Homo sapiens: one gene and its partners. The protein of the gene in region 3 purifies or fractionates together with the protein of the main gene of each other region. This does not show direct contact. Each region holds a gene or a part of one and is shown on either strand. Other genes may lie near its edges. The genes, in order: PLCD1, LTF, DHRS12, DSG4 and HEPHL1.

The links.
Region 1: the proteins of DHRS12 (region 3) and PLCD1 purify together in Homo sapiens (affinity purification with mass spectrometry; one large-scale study listed by BioGRID and IntAct). This does not show direct contact.
Region 2: the proteins of DHRS12 (region 3) and LTF purify together in Homo sapiens (affinity purification with mass spectrometry; one large-scale study listed by BioGRID and IntAct). This does not show direct contact.
Region 4: the proteins of DHRS12 (region 3) and DSG4 purify together in Homo sapiens (affinity purification with mass spectrometry; one large-scale study listed by BioGRID and IntAct). This does not show direct contact.
Region 5: the proteins of DHRS12 (region 3) and HEPHL1 purify together in Homo sapiens (affinity purification with mass spectrometry; one large-scale study listed by BioGRID and IntAct). This does not show direct contact.

What each region holds. Positions count from the first base shown.
Region 1 is NC_000003.12:38,009,807-38,012,650, forward strand, and holds part of PLCD1 (1-phosphatidylinositol 4,5-bisphosphate phosphodiesterase delta-1), read right to left. Parts: intron 1,868-2,844; coding exon 1,738-1,867; intron 1,640-1,737; coding exon 1,408-1,639; intron 757-1,407; coding exon 555-756; intron 470-554; coding exon 325-469; exon of another isoform or gene 248-324; coding exon 98-247; intron 6-97; coding exon 1-5. UniProt on the Homo sapiens protein: The production of the second messenger molecules diacylglycerol (DAG) and inositol 1,4,5-trisphosphate (IP3) is mediated by activated phosphatidylinositol-specific phospholipase C enzymes. Essential for trophoblast and placental development.
Region 2 is NC_000003.12:46,438,026-46,440,926, forward strand, and holds part of LTF (lactotransferrin isoform 1 preproprotein), read right to left. Parts: intron 1,456-2,901; coding exon 1,271-1,455; intron 105-1,270; coding exon 1-104. UniProt on the Homo sapiens protein: Transferrins are iron binding transport proteins which can bind two Fe(3+) ions in association with the binding of an anion, usually bicarbonate. Lactoferricin binds to the bacterial surface and is crucial for the bactericidal functions.
Region 3 is NC_000013.11:51,797,662-51,801,182, forward strand, and holds part of DHRS12 (dehydrogenase/reductase SDR family member 12), read right to left. Parts: intron 2,007-3,521; coding exon of another isoform or gene 1,999-2,006; coding exon 1,873-1,998; intron 248-1,872; coding exon of another isoform or gene 165-247; intron 1-164. UniProt on the Homo sapiens protein: Putative oxidoreductase.
Region 4 is NC_000018.10:31,407,763-31,411,283, reverse strand, and holds part of DSG4 (desmoglein-4 isoform 2 preproprotein), read right to left. Parts: intron 1,833-3,521; coding exon 1,693-1,832; intron 1,540-1,692; coding exon 1,476-1,539; intron 175-1,475; coding exon of another isoform or gene 54-174; coding exon 1-53.
Region 5 is NC_000011.10:94,027,845-94,031,365, reverse strand, and holds part of HEPHL1 (ferroxidase HEPHL1 precursor), read right to left. Parts: intron 1-3,521. UniProt on the Homo sapiens protein: Is a copper-binding glycoprotein with ferroxidase activity. It oxidizes Fe(2+) to Fe(3+) without releasing radical oxygen species. May be involved in the regulation of intracellular iron content.

The DNA of each region.
Region 1 (2,844 bases), on a different chromosome or scaffold from region 3:
AGTTGCTAGGTGGGGAGGGGCAACTGGTCAAGACACACCTAGCGCCCCGGCTAGGCTCCCCACCCTCCCCCAGGGATCCCCCATCCCCACCACACACCTCAGGGGAGGGCAGGCTGTTGGTGACCCCATCCAGTGGTCGGTTCAACAGCATGGGGCCCAGGATGGCATGCAGGTGCCGCGCCATCACGCGCTGCTGCTCCAGTGTGCAGTGGTTCTCCAGGGATAGGATGACAGGGTAGGGGGACGCCTGGAGGCCCAAGGGCACATTAGGAGTGGTGGGCCACCCCTAGCATCCCACTCCTCACCTGCCAGGGGCACTCCCACCTTGAAGGCATAGTCCCGGATGGCCCTGAGCACATCGCAGAAGAGGATCTTGGAAGTGAAAGTATAGCCGTGGTAGATGATTGGTTCCTGGTTGGGCCCGTCCCAGCAGTCAAGCTCCAGGCATCGGCAGCCTTTGCACAGTGCCCTGCGGGGAGGGTGGTGGCTAGGACCCTCCAGGTCCTGTCCCGGGTCCCACCCAGACTCCCGACCCAAGGCTCCCTGAGCAGCACCGGATGTAGGCTTCAGTGCTGCTGGGCCCGGCTAGCTGGTCCTCCAGCAGGTAGGTGTTGTGTGAAGAGGACACCAGGTAGTGGCTAAGTGGCTGGCCCATGTCCTGGTAGACACGGCGGTGTGCCAGGCTGAAGGCGCTGCCGTCAGCCGACAGTAAGTACATGAGGAAGCCGTCCTTGGTCATCTGCCGCTGCGCCTTGGCTGGGAGGGAGGAGGCCACTGCCCGTCAGAGCCAGCCTCCAGCAGGCGCTCCTGGCTGCCCACCCATCTGGACAGAGGAGCCCTCTGAACCCGCTTGCCTGCCTGTCCTGAGCCAGTCTTCCAGAGCTCTTGGAATTAGGATAAGTCTGAGGCTCTCGACCAGACTGTGGCTACTCCAGAGTGGGGCCCTGTCTCCTCCTCCTCCCCTGTCTGCACACTCTAAGACCCCTGAGGACAGGGTGTCATCTCCCCGTTCTCTGTACCTCCAGACTGGAGCCCCCTCCAGGGCAGGGACCCATCTTCTCTGCTCTATCACATCTCAAAGCTGGGCCAAGAATGAGTAAAAAAAAAAGAAGCAGGAGTAGCATCTGCTTTTCAGCCATCTCTCTTGTTTCTTGAAGAAGGGGTCCTCAAAGCCCCCTGAAGGAGGTGCCAAGAGGGAAACAGGACCAGAGAAGGGTAGGGATGCCAGAGCCCTGTCTCTCATCTGCCGGCTTTCATAGGACCAGAAAGTGTGGAGCAGGGCCCCGGGGCTGGCTGAGGCAGCCCCTTCCCTCCGGTTCCCTTCTTTCTGGCTGCAGTCTCCCCAGGGGTCTCCCAGCCCAGTGCGGCCCTGCGACTGCAGGTAGCAGGCCCTGGTCAGGCTCTCACCAGTCTCGCTGGGCTCGTAGCGCTCAATGAGGGAGAGGGCCAGCGCAGGCCCTGCCGCCTCCTCCCGCTGCTGGTGCTGCAGGAACGTCACTAACTGATCCACCGACAGAGTCTCCCCTGAGCCCGCGGCCTCGGCGAAGGTGCGGTCGATCTCCACCCGCTGGGTCAGCATCTTGTAGAAGGCCTCAATCTCCTCGTCCTCCAGGGAGTCTGTCTGGGAGTGGTCACACTCCTGCAGAGCCAGGACAGCCGAGTGGGCTCAGAGCAGGCCTTGGGCCGGGGTCAAGGGCCCCATGGACAGGCAGCCCCAGCCCCCACTTCCTGCCTCACCCTGAAGATCTTCCGGGCATAGCTGTCGTCCACCTGGATGTTGAGCTCCTTCAGGAAGTTCTGCAGCTCCTTGAAGCTCATCTTGTTGTCCTTGTTTTTGTCAGCTTTTCGCAAGCAGGAGTGAATCCAGCTGGGCAAGAAGTAAGGAAAGAACCCAGGAACCCTGGAACCTACCAAGGTCCCAGCCAGAGCCATGGATGGCTCCAGCTGAAGCCACCTATAGCCACAGCTCCCTGCAGGCCTGACTTACTACACATCCATGTTTCAGTGGCCTCTTCAGAGGAAAATGTTAAGGGGTCTTTTTCTATTTGCTGGTTTTCAAACCTTTCAAAATTTTTAAAACATTTCTTTTCTTACTACAAAAGGGCCCACTGTAGACAATTTAGAAAATGCAGAAAAGTAAACAATCAAACAAATCTCCCGTAGTCTATCACCTAGGGATAAATACTATCAACATTCCAAAGTATATCCTTCTGGTTTTCCTTTTCTTTTTTTTTTTTTTTTGACAAGATCTCACTCTGTCGCCCAGATTAGAGTGCAGTGGCACAATCACAGCTCATTGCAGCCTAGACCTCTCAGGCTCAAGTGATCCTCCCACTACAGGTGTGCACCGCACCACCACGCCTGGCTTTTTTTTTTTTTTTTGGGTAGAGACAGGGTCTCCCTATGTTGCCCAGGCTAGTCTCAAACTCCTAGGCCCAAGCAATCCTCCTGCTTTGACCTCCCAAAGTGCTGGGATTACAGATATGAGCCATCTGGACTGGTTTTCAACATATAATATATAATAATAAATATCCAACACTAAAGAAATGGATATTCCACCTGCTGAATAGCCTTCAGCACACGAATCTCGTGCTTGGCTGGACCATTCTAAACTTGACTTTTTTCACCTGGCTTTCTGTCATAATTATTCTTTTCCACATCTATACCCATATATATACAATTTGGAAAACATATATATGTTAGAATGAAGTTTTTTTTTTTTTTTTTGGAGACGGAGTCTTGCTCTGTTGCCCAGGCTAGAGTACACTGGCGCGATCTCGGCTCACTGCAACCTCTGCCCTCTGGATTCAAGCAATTCTCCTGCCCTAGCCTCCTGAGGAGCTG
Region 2 (2,901 bases), on a different chromosome or scaffold from region 3:
CTGGCCAGACACTCAGTGTTGTCATTGAACAGAAGGTTTTTGGTTTCAGACTGGAATAAGCAAAACTTGTCCGGGCAGTCAGATCCATTTCTCCCAAATTTAGCCTGCGACAAAAGGGCAGACAGTGAGTAGCTAAGGAAAAGAGGAATTTATGGGTTAAAGGAGGCAAAGGGGTATTTCTTCCACCCAAGAACAGCCCTGAGAAAACCATGGGGCAGAAGGAGCTGAGTTCTGGAGTCATTCCACCTCCTTAGTGGAGTCCCCCACCCCACACTCCTGGTGGCAGGCCCGCCTTGGGCAGCATCCAGGCCTCGCACCACTTCTGGTCCTACCTCCTACCATCTGCCATCTTTCCTTCCTTCTTAACCTGTGACCTTTTCCCATACAACTTCTTATGGGTGACAAGGCAACAATGGAGGGGTTTTGAGATCTGCCCTCACAAGTCAATTGCTCAGGACATTCTAATATGCAGCTCTTCTAGAGAGGCAGGCTGCTAGGAAAACCCAGGCTCAGCCACTAACCAGCTCAGTGTGCAGGTCGGTCACCCTGCCTCCCTCACACAGTTCCTGCTCTGTCCCAGGCTCCCATGTGGGGAGACTGAGACCCAAACCCCTCAGTCACGGCAGCTCTCTCACCAGCACCACTGTGTGTGCACATTAAGAGCTCCATAAAGGCCAGTTATGGTGGCCAGTCTTGTTATTCCTGAGTTGTTTTCTTCAAAAGCACACAGAGACATGATGTTATATGATAAAAATAGAAGTTCTAATAAAATCCCAGATTTTAAGAAAATTTTGGGATTTCGTTCAAATCACATTTAGAGAGCCCTAAATCTATAGGGCACCTTCTGAGTTTGCTGTTTTAGAGGCCTGGCCTAGAGCACTGTTCACTCGGCCCAGGTTCAGGAAATGTCACCTGAGTAAAAAGCACTATACTAATGCATGTGGGAGGAAGGCTCAGTGGCTTCCTCATTTGCCAGAAGAACAGCAGGAGGGAAAAAGACAGCCTCTGAGCCAGGCAGTGATGGCAACAAGGCCAGGGCACAGAGTCTCAGCAGAAATGGAGTGAGTCCCAGAAAGCCCAGAGTCAAAAGCCTCTGTTGTTCTTGTTGACACTCTGGGCAACGCCACAGCATGAAGCCAATACTCTCACCATGAGCTTCAAGTAGAGGACTAGAGAGGATCGAGTGGGCTGGTGCACCTAGCTCTGTGATCTCCTCACCTAACATGAGCCCACACAGCTAAGAAAGCACTAGAAGCCCTGTGGTCCATACCTGTTGGTGGAGCAACACCTGTTTCAGGCGTTCCACCTTATCCATCCGAGACACCACGGCATGATTCGGGGCCATGGCAAGATGGCAGCTTCTAGCCTCAGTCACAGGCTTCCGTTTGCCATCGAGGCACAGCAGCGCAAAGTCTGCCAGCTTCAAATCCTTAGCCCATGCCTCATTGTTATTTCCTGGGGAGAAAAAGAAGGTGGCATCATCCACGCCTCCCCTGCTTAGCCAAGAAGTCTCTTCTGGGTGGGTGTGGCCATTCCACTGACCTCCCAAATGCACACACTGGGGTTGTGGTGATGTGAGGAACAGAGAAGGAGCTTCATCCTACACAAGCTGTACAAACTTCAAATATACCAAATATTAGTGCTGTGTCCATGCAATGGAATGTTATTCAGCAATAAAAGGGAGTGAAGTTCTGGTACATCCTGCAATATGCATGAACCTCGAAAACGATGCTAAGTGAAAGAAGCCAGTCACAAAAGACCACACAATAGGCTGGGCACGGTGGCTCATGCCTGTAATCCCAGCCCTTTGGAGGCCAAGGTGGGAGAATCACTTGAAGCTAGGAGTTCATGACCAGCTTGGGCAACATAGCAAGACCTCATCTCAAAAAAAAAAACCCACCACATATTATATGACTCCATTTATATGAAATGTCCAGAATAGGCCAACCTATGGAGACAGAAAGTGGATTGATGGTTGCCAATGCTGAAGAAGGATAGGGCAATGACTGATAATAGGTGCAAGGGTTTCTTTATGGGAGGATACAAGCGTTCTAGAGTTGGATTGTGTTGATGGCTGCACAACTCTGTGAATGTGCTGGAGATCACTGAATTGTACACTTTGCATGGGTGGATTTTTTAGTATATGAATTCTACCTCAATAAAGCTGTTTAGAGTTCTTATTTTTTTAAAGAAGAAAACCCTCCACCTATGCCATATTTTTCAGTGAGTTCCAGAAAAAGAATAGATGGTTTACATTCAAGGAGAAATTGGTTTCTCCTCCCTTTCATATTCAAATGCTATTAGTGTAACCAGAGAAAGGAAAGGAACTTTTATAGGTTTATCAAATATATACAGCCAATTCTAACAAAATACAGTTGTAAAGTACCGGAGAAAGTTAAAATTAAATTTGACATCAATCTGATCCCTGGAGATTACTTCAGTTAATGGCTTGTAAATTCTAAATGTAATTGTATGCATGTCTATGTTTGTGCAGATGCCGGCTCATTGTTCCGGCTCCCGTTTGTCTCTCTGCTCTCTCCCTTTAAGAAAGCACTTTATTCATTCTCTTGGATTCCTCTATTTGATATTGAAATAATTTCAAATTTACATGTCTTGTTTTAATCTCTGTCCCAAGAGACACTAGAAGGAGCAGAAGCAGAAGGGAGAAGTGGCTGAGACTGCAGTGATTACTGAAGGAGGGAGGCCGAAAGTGGAGACAGTTCTTTCTCAGGAAACAGAATAGCAAGTCACCTGCTGAGACTTGGGGGTTGGAATGCTGAAGTGGGGCTAAGGAGACAGATGCAGATTGGAAGGTAGCAAATGGCTGAGGACCAGGAGAGAGAGTGATTGTTCAAACATTGGCTGGAAGATTATCTTCCATCATCTGCAACCACCTGTAAT
Region 3 (3,521 bases):
CATTCAAAAGCAGGGCCCAGCTCCCTGCTGGCCGAGGCTGCTTCCAAAGCAGAAGCACAAACACAGGCCCTCTTCAACCCAGGGAAAGCGGGTAGGAGTCCAGCCTCCTCACAGCTGACCATGGAGGCAAGGAAACCCAGCAGGAGGGGTGAGGAGCTGCTCACCTGGTTACCGCTCTCCCGGATGATCTCACCCCTGGCATCTTCTGCTGGGGCTTGATCTCGACAAACCAGGTGAACTGTGCCACCTGGTGGAATTCAATGAAACCATCTGTGAGTTACAGCGAGAGCTACAGAAACCAGCTCTTCCTAATGAAAAATGAAGACATATGGGCTCACAGTTGACACTCTTCTGTTAAGCCTAGATGGGTGGTTCCCAGAGTTAAGAGCAGCAAGGGCGATGGTGAGGGAGGTGCTGGAACCTTATTGCCTACCTGTGCTGACAGTGCGTCTGGAATAACATCCTGATTTTTTGAGGGCCTGAACACATCAAGGATAAGAAACATTGATCTGGGTCACATATGCCTCCCTAGCATCTAGCATAGTAGCTGACCCAGATGTGTTAAACCTGGCTGCACTTTAGACTCATGTAGGGAGCTTTTAAAGATCTAGGCGATAGGCCCAGGACTGGGTATGTTTTACAAGCTCCCCTGGTGATGTAATGTTCAGCCAAAGTAGACAGCCACTTGCCTAGCATGTAGTAGAGACTCAAGTATTGACTGAATGTTGAGTCCATCAGCAGCCCTCATATTATCCCAGCAAATGCCACACCATCATCAATCAAGGTCAATTTAAAGCAGAATGCCTTCGCCGTGGCAGCTAAGAACGAATCGTTATGGAGTCTGCTTTCTTTACTAAAAATCACCCACTTGATTAAATGGGGTGTTTCATGGGAGGCTACAGGCTAACCACAACACTAGCCCCTCTTCTCTCCTCCTCTCCGCACTTCAGAGTGCTTCCCAGCTGCTAAGATGCAATTAATCCTCTCCCTGACTTGGCAGATAATTAAATAAAGCTTCAAATGATATAATAGTCCCCTGAAAAATGCCTAACTTGGATTTAGAGAGAGGAAAAAAGAAAACATCTTCAGCATCTTAAAAAGTGATAAATTCACAACCTAGTTCCCCACCTTCTGCTGGAACATCCATTTTTCCTGAAGAGGCTCTGGAGAGATGCAGCAAACTTTTCTAGCCACTGCAGAGCCATTTGGTGACCCAGGATCGTTGAGCTCATGCAGGAAATTCTGGCATTTACCATGAGGAAGACTTCTGCTGACTGAAGACTTTACAGTGCACCTGAAGCACCTCTTTATAGTCAAGCTTAGGGGAGGGAAGCGGGAGGCTGCTCTAGCCCTGGAGGCTGGACCCCAGCAAGGAGGAAGTTTAGTTCAATGCACTCCTCTCTCCAGGTATTTTGGGGGCCTTGGTTCATAACTACCATCCACATCCAAATTGCAGTGGACTTTGAGGCTCCCCCTCCCCTTGTCTCTCACCCCAGGAGAGTCTCATTGAGAAGACATGAGTTAGAGACCAGGTGTTCATGTTTTTGTTTTTGTTTTTTTAATTAAATTCCACTGGGGATTCTGATGTCCAGGGTTTGCTTGAGCCCCTCGCTGTTCTTAATCAGAAAACACTGGGACACGTGGGCAGGACCCCAAGCTCGCCTGAGAATTAATTAAGTGTTGAGGAAAGGGCTCCTGTTGCTCTAGCCACCTGGAGCTCAAAACTCAGAAAGCTGGCAGCTGTGCCCAGAACCATGGGATCGCCGTCCAGGACTTCCTGGCCTGCCTGTGACACAGGGTGCCCTCCTCAGTGTGGACCGGCCGCAGTCTGGCCGTGGGGCTCAGTGGACACACGTGTTAGCAGCTGCTTACCTCGCTTGGCGATTTCAAGGGCAGTTGCTTTGCCAATGCCGCTGTTTCCTCCAGTGACCAAAAAGACTCTTCCAGGAATCTGGACCTCCAAGTCATGAGGGACAAAGTCTTTACATGCAGATTCATAGCCACTCCTAGAAAGAGGAGACCCACAGGAAGACCAGCTGTAAGGAGTGGGGAACACAAACCCCTGCAGGAGAAAGCCTAATTCTAGGATGGGCATTATTGCTGTCTCCGCCTCTCCCAACACATCACGAAACTCCTTTCTCCCTTGCCCTCCCTGCTCTCACAAACACCACTATCTCGGGGCCTGCATTTCCTGGACCATGATCTTTCCAAACTTTTGAAAATATTGGAGATTCCAACATTTTGGCATCCAAATTGTCTTCCTCTGACTGCCCCGATCCTGGGGAGTGGCAAAAAGAAAAAAAATCCCTTGACAGATGAATTGCTCTTTTCCCTTTTGTGGGGGGCAGGTTTCAGGAAGCTTAGGAGACCATTTGCATTGTGCTTATTGCATTGCAGGACAGATATCCTTGCCTACTTGGAGAAACGGGGGAGATTTGCAAGTAGGGAATAAAGGAGGAGGATGGTAGAGTTATTTAAGCTCTGCACCCATCAGAGGAAGCCAAGGCTCCTTCAGGGACACAAGGTGTGCACTGCACAGCTCTAGGGAGTGCCATTCGGATCAGAATGATGGGATATTTGTATCTGCATTATGATAATGTTCTGGCAGGTGGCAGAAAAGCATATTGCAGAAGAGGTATTTTTTCTGATTTGCACAAAGGCATCATATTGGATAGATGCAATTGTGAGTTCTTTAACTGTTTCTTTTTCCCATTCCTTTTGCGATACCTCTCTACCTTTACTCTTCTAGTATTTCCTGGCTATGAAATTGGCTAAGGGCAGTGGTGGCAGAATGGTGGGGTTGGCAGGTGGAGGCCCAGAGGGCAGACTCTGCCCACGCACAGGCAGGCTGGGGTCTCAGAGCTTACATCTCTCACCTACGGAGCCGAGAGATTTCTCCTGGGCAATGCAGGATGGGACTCTGATCTCAAGGCTCCACAGATGCTGAGAGCCCTCCCACAGGACCTGTTTACAAAAGGGTAGCCAACAGCTGGCCTCCTGCCCCATGCCCTGGTACAGCACAACTGCCAGTTACATGCTCTGGAACTCGGGGAAGTGGCCAAAGGATGTTTATGAGCTTGGGTTTGGTTTGAAAGTCATTGCCACGGGGCAGGCATTGCCACTTGTTTCAGTCAAGCCAGATGTTCTTAAGAGAACAAGAAAAATGTTCCTGTTTTCACCATCTGTAACTCACCAGAACATGCAGGGCAGCTTAGAGAACACCCTACCCATTGCTTCTGCTGTGAGTGGCAAGCAAGACTTCTTATTCCAAAGCCTTCCCAAAAAGGTTGACTTGAAACTTAAAAATATCAGTAACAAGGGCTTGAACAACCTGGGTTTAAGTCACAGCTCAGCCTCTTACTAGCTGTGCCATCTTGTGTGTTGATTTAACCTTTCTGAGCTCTTATCTCCTCATCTGCAGAAAGGGAATAATAAGAGATACCTCTTGGGCAGCCTAAATGAGATGCCGCATCTAAGGCACTTATGACAGCACTTGGAACATATTAGGAGCTCAATAATTA
Region 4 (3,521 bases), on a different chromosome or scaffold from region 3:
CGATACACCTCCTTCCACCGTGCCCCCGGCTGCATAGGTGTTGGTGTAGATTTCTGAAAAGGGAGGATGTTGGTTTAACAGCGCTGGAGTTGCCTGCAGCGCGCATCTGCCTAAAACGCTGCCGCCGCCGTCTGCGGTGCCACCACCACCCGGCAAGGCGTAGGCGCTAAAAAGCTGACAAAGAGAGATACAAGTTACACCGATACATCTCCAGGCTTGTTGACCAAATAAAAGTAAATTAATTACACAGAGGGAGTCAGTGGTGGGACGTGGCCTTCCCACATTTGCACAGACTTCGCCCTAGACTTAAAGGTGTAGAACTAGCCAAGAGAACTACAAGCAGGCGCCCGTTCCCGCCGTGGCTGCTGCGGGCTTGATCCAGCCGGGAGCCCTCCAAAGCAAGGCCAGCGGCGTGATTGCAGAAACTGAGCTCATAGTCCTCCTTCACTCCGGAACAGGATGGAGCTGGGCTCACAGGGATGTTCAGTCACGGAGTTTCTTTGCATACAAAGGGCCAAGCTTGGGATACTAAGGAACCATCAGAGAAAGCTCACGTGCACTGCAGAATTAAGCACCCTCTCTGTTTGGTGCAATCATTGCCATATAGCTAAGTAGTGTGTTCAGTATTGTTAGATATGCGTGGGGCTGGTAAGATAGGAGAGTTTACGACACTCTTTTGAGGCAAAAGCTTGTCTGAAGTTAAGAAAAGTTATTCAGTGTATTATTAGAGTACATTTACTGCCTTTTCTTTAGCTCTTTAAAAAAAAACAGCTTGTATTATAAATAATTACTACAGTGCCAGGCACTACTCTAACGTATATTTTGTGATATATGTATATATACACACTTATATATGTGTGTGTGTATATATATAGACACACATACACATGTATGTTATATATAATAAAATAATCTATACAATATATGTATGTATTATATATTACATATGTAATATGTATTATTTACTCCTCACAGCAACACTTTAAAGTAGGTACTATCATAAGCTCAATTTTAAAGATAAGGAAACTGAGGCCCAGTGAGGTTAAATGTCTTGACTAAGGACTTATTACTACAGGTTGAGCATCCCAAATCCAATAATCAAGAATCCAAAATGCTCCTAAGTCTGAAACTTTTTGATCATCATGGTACAAAAAGTTTGAGCCAAACTCAAACTCATGGTCCTATGCATTTCGGATAAAAGATATGCAACCCTTAAGCAAGTGGCAGAGCTGGGAATCAAACCCAAGCATTCTGCTTCCAGAGTTTGCTCTTTTAACTGCTGTGTCATACTTCACTGTCTGTAGTTTCAGATAGAAAAAAAAAGTGGCTACTTCAAACAGGTCACATTCCCTCTAATTATACTGTCACCCAAAGAGACTGACAGACTTTTCCATAAGGTACTTTTACATGAAGTTGGTCTGGTTGAATAATTTTGAAAAATTTAAAAGGAAAAACAGATTTTGGTGTCTACTGACCAGAGGAATCCATCCGATCCTGGGTATTTGAGGCTGTCATGGGTGCACATATATTTGACACATCCTGAAAAGAAAAATAAACATTTTAAAAACAAACGCTTTATGTTAAACATTTAAAAACTGACATCTGTTCATTTTTGTGCAGCATGTAATTGTTAAGACATGCTCAATTTCCACTGAAACTCCACACTTCTCTGGAGAGTGACAGTCCACTTACCCTGTCCTCGGGATGGGCCCCTTCAATTCTCCAAGACTGCATCACTCCTTCTCCGCCCTCAGGCACAGGAGCAAATCTTGTTCCCAGGCCTTCTGGCTGTCTCTGTTTGCAGCAACACAGGAGCAGCAAGAGTGGAGCCACTGCCCAAGAAAGTGACAATGTCGAGTTAACACACATTGCTCGGTTTAGGAAGTCACTGGATGAATCATTCTGGGGAGCATTTGGTGGCAGTATATTTAGAACAAAAATACAAATATATGTAAGAAAATCTCATTTTTTTCCTTTAGGGGATTGAGTATACATATCCAAGTTTATAAATACAGCACCACCAAATCACATAGAACTTTAGCGCTAGATGGCAAGGAGTTTGCGATCAGGTAATTGAATTTCTTTGCTGACAGATTAGGAAAGTAAGGTCGTCTTTAGTCTAAGACTCTTGAACTGGTTGGGGCAGATGCACACATACATGTAAGTTAAACGCATCATGAATATATGTTATCAAGAGGATTGAATACAGGATTCAGCTATAGGACCTGGAGATAGGACCTATCTTCAATCCTTATTACAGTTACACTTAAAATAGAAGTCAAATAATACTCACTAAATTTAATGGAGATATTTACAATTATTTTAAGACTTTGTTTATAGACTATAATGAAAAATTAAAGCTATCAAAAATGTTTAGCTATCCAAGTGTTTCTTAAGAGGAAATTTCCTATTTGTTACCCTAATAATCACCTCAATTCTGTATTTTAATCCATAAATATAGACACTGCTTAAGTTTTCTAAGATTCTAGAATACACTCTGTTTAGTTCTTTGGGCCCACTCTGGTTGCTTTTCATACTTTCCTAATTCTCTAGCATGGCATGCATTTTACTAAGTGGGTTAATTAAAGATAAAGAATAGAAGGATAAATGCTTGAGGGGATGGATGCCCCATTCTCCAGGATGTGATTATTTCACATTGCATGCCTGTATCAAAGCAGCTAATGTACCCCATAAATATGTACACCTATTATGTACCCACAAAAATTAAAAATTAAAAACAGATACAAAAGAAGAGACTATCAAAGTTGCAAAATCAGCTTTAGTCTTATTACAACAATTAATTTGGCAATTTTGCCATCTGCACTATGAACAGTGAAAGGTCAAGTTATACATTTCCATAGCATTTTCTGGAAAAGGACTAAAACTAAAATTGGTAGCCCCTAGGCCATGGTTCTGCCTATTCTATATTTCTGTGAATTTAAATGTGAGCTGGATCATGTACCATTGCAGGCCTGAACTCTAACAAAGGCACTATCTAATAAATGAAATGAAGTGTTTTTAGCACATACCCAATACAATTACTGTATGTGTAATCTCATTTGGAGCTAACATCAAAAGTGTCAATTTGAGGCCCTTTGGGAACATAGGTTTGGGCTCAGATCCCTCCCACTACCATCACACTGCCCCCTCTCTCCTAAAATAGACCATGGGCTTCTCCATTGAAAACAAGTGTCCATAGGGGTATTCCTCTCCTATTCTACAATCCATCAGTTGAACAACTCTCATGCTTTCTTTGTCTGGGTCAGGAAAAAGTCTTGAAATTCTTAGTGCTAACGTTCTGGAAATGCAGCTGGCACTGGGTTTTTAGCCCTGAACTGCACATTAGTCTCACCAAAGGGCTTGAACATGCTGATGCTTGGTCTCATCTTGAGTATGACTCTAGTATGAGTAATTTTGGAAGACCTTTAACTAATTCTTATGTACAACTAGGGTTGAGAACCGCTAACTCAAAGCTTACCCGAAACCACTACTCAATTGCTGTAGAGTTATATTCTGGGAAA
Region 5 (3,521 bases), on a different chromosome or scaffold from region 3:
GTGTGTGTGTGTGTGTGTGTGTGTGTGTGTGTGTAACAATGCACATTTACCCATATGCAAAGAATACATCTGGAAAGTGACCAGGGAAACAAAGTGTAGCCTCCAGACTATGAGACTGAAGCCACAGGTGGGAGGGAGGACGGAGGAGAAGTTTACTTTCACTCATCCTCTTTTATACTGTTGTAGGGGGAGGGGCGGTTACTCTGTACCTACAAATTCAATACTAAAAACAAGCTCACGTTTTATTGAAAAAAAAAGAAGACCCATGCTGTTTGGCCTCCAAGGGGCCAAAATTCTCTTGCATGCCTTCTATTTCTAAAAACAAAGCTGCCACAACAAAGGGTGTTGTTGGATTGAGTTCTGCTCTGCAAGGGGATTGGCCTCTGGAGCAGAGAGCATGGCATCTGCTCACTATCCCTGCTCAACCTCTGGCTTGCCAACTCTCCTCTCAGGCATTGAGGCTGAAGTCTTGGGACTGTGTATGAACATTCTGGGTCTCTTGTATCCAAGCATCCACTAAGCCTGCATGTGTCTACCCAGGAGCAAGAGTTAGCCCTCTCCCACTCTATAAGGCAAAGACTTACATTTCCCTGTGCAAGAGAATGGGATATAAAAGTTGGGATGCCTGACCCCTGGACCTTTATAATAGAGGCTGTTACATTTCTCAGACTTGCTTGCAACTTGGAATAGTCATGTGACATAATTCTAGCCAATCAGATGTAAGCAGAAGTCACTCAATGATACTTCTCCAGGTGTAGCTGGAAGACACCATTTTTCTCCTCTTCTCTTCCCTTTATTCATGCCTGAAATGTAGACATGATGACTGGAGCTCCAGCAGCCATCTTGAGATAACGAGGAAGAGGGTCACACCCTAGGAATGGTCAAGTGAGAGCCAAAAGGAACCTGGGACCCAGATGATTGCCAACCTCTGGCTCTCTTTTATGTAAGCAATAATAATAAATCTTTAATCGATTTAAACCACTTCTGTTTTTCAGGATTCTGTTAAAGAGTAGCTGAATACAACTCCTGATTGAACAGGCTGTGCAAAAGGAGAAGGAAGAGGAAGAGGCAGAGGAAGAACTGAGTCATCCCCAAGCTTGCTAATAAGCCTCAGAGTTGCCCAGTTTTATAGCTGACAATGGGTCACCCAGTAAGGTGGCACAGCAAGGATTAGATTCAGAATCCCTGGTATGCTCTCTGGGTTCAGCCTGATGGGTAAAAACTATAATACAAAACTATTATTCATAGGACCTTATCATTCCAACAGGCCCTATAGGGAAGGATGGACATTGGACTCTACTTCTCTACCCTGTTCTCCCACTGCACACATGAAGACACAAAAGTATACACACATGCAGATGCATGTGGAGCACACATGCTCACATCTTCACATATGTACTCCTGCTTTTAATCTGCTAAGAGGTCCTGACCCCACCTCTGCCCAAGACCTTTCTCCATCACCTCCACAAGACCAGGTCTTACCATGAGTTGTCTGGCAAAGGCACTAAATAAGAGGCAAAATAAGTATCAGGAGGGGCAGTGAAGTGTTTGCTGAGTCCCTGTAGGGACTGGAGCACTTATGGTATGCTTCATATTTTGGCACTGAGTTATACATTGACTGTTTTTCATATTCCTGGACACATATCAGTCTTATCACCTATACAGCCAATAGTCACCCCAAGGGGGGATTGGGTTTTCTAAAGCAGTGGTTCCCAAATGTCCACCCATGTACCACTTGCATCAGAATCATTTGGAACATTTGCCAAATTTTTATTCTCAGGCCCCACTTCAGGGCAATGGAATCAGACTTTCTACTGGCAAGACCATGGTATCTGTATTTTTTCCTAAGATCACCAAATGATTCCTGTAGTAGAGCTTTTTAGGGCTTGCGTATTCTAATTTTTCTTTCCTCCTAACCAAAGAAGACCACAGTGATTCTGCTTTTGCAAGTTAGATGGGCCATAGTGTTCTGGCAAATTGGCTGTGAGTGGAAATGCCACGTGTCACTTCTGGGTGGGGGCATTTAATTATTATTGCAAGACCCTCTCTTCCTCTGCTGCAGGAGGAGCCTCCTGCTCAGACAGTGAAGAGAACCCATAGCTTCCTCCTTGTCCCAGGACTTCTTCCCCTGCACTGACTCCACATCAAGAGTAGGACAGGGTTGACCCATGAAGGTGCCCTAGGAAGATACTTCACACAAAACAAAAACTATAGTAACTATTTGATAAAAATTTGTTGAGGCTGGGTGTGGTGGCTCATGCCTAATCCCAGCATTTTGGGAGGCCAAGGTGGGAGGATCACTTGAGGCTAGGAGTTTAAGACTAGCCTGGGCAATACAGTGAGATCCTATACTTTTTTAACTAATAGGAAAAAAAGCTTGAAAGTAAAAAAAGAAGTGGGAAGGGATAGAAATAAGAGAAAGTAGTTTGTTTTAGTGTCTACACAGCAAACCACCCATTGAGAACATATTATGCATTTGTAATAGTAGAACAGAAACTCCAGCTCCTTTGAGTTCTATAAAATGCAAATTTGCCCAAGAAACAAAGTAAGGAAGTAACTTCAAGGGAGCCATCCCCATGAAGCAACCTCCAATTTAAATGGAGTATATTTGTTAGAATGTTGCATTGGTGAGCCATCTGTTGTTTATCACGTAGCCATGGCGAGGGGCTGAGCAATCACTATTCCTCAAGAACATTTTCAATCTGCATTCTAACATCTTGACTCAAGCTAAGGAGGTGTCTACTTCCTGCTGCAAAAGAATCCAGTGGGGCCAGGAAGGTTAACATTAACAACTGCCTTAAAGACAAGATGGGGACTTGGAACATTACATTGCCAGTGCCTGGGGCCAATCCTGTGGATGGAGATATCTTCCAAAAGCAGAGGAGATTAATCATTATCAGAACAAACCTGCCCTTGGGAATCCCCTACACAGTACAGAGTTGGACTTCCAGGTTAGATTCTCAGGAGTTCGTAGCTTGCAGGGATATAAACCACCCAGCAATCCCATGACCTCTGCATCTTTTAGAGGGATGTTTTCTGATAGCTTCCTTGGAGCAATTGCTGATCATCTACTATGTCTGGGACATAAAACTAGAAACTGGGGCCAAGATGTATTAATCTCAGTCCCTGCATGCAAGAGTTTTACCATCTAGTTGGGAAGCAAAACATGCATTTGACAGTAAACACAGTTTTACAATGTTAACTGCCAACTCTACTGTCCAGAGCCCACATGTCTGTGTAGAGGGCAGGGAAATATAAGATGAAGATAAACTGCAAAATAATGTTAGCAGAGAGTGTGGTCAGATCCAACATGTGAGATCATAAGAGTCACAATAAGGACAAGAAATATTGTTTGAGCTTGAGAAGGAACGTTCTTCACCAAGGAGAAAAAAAGATGAGATTGAGACAAATGTCACTTGGAAAAAGGAAGGGTGGAGACGGAGATTGCACATTCAGTTTGGTGAAGCTGCACCCTCCCTATTAGATTAATAATTTTTAATACCATCTGGATGTGCTTCTAT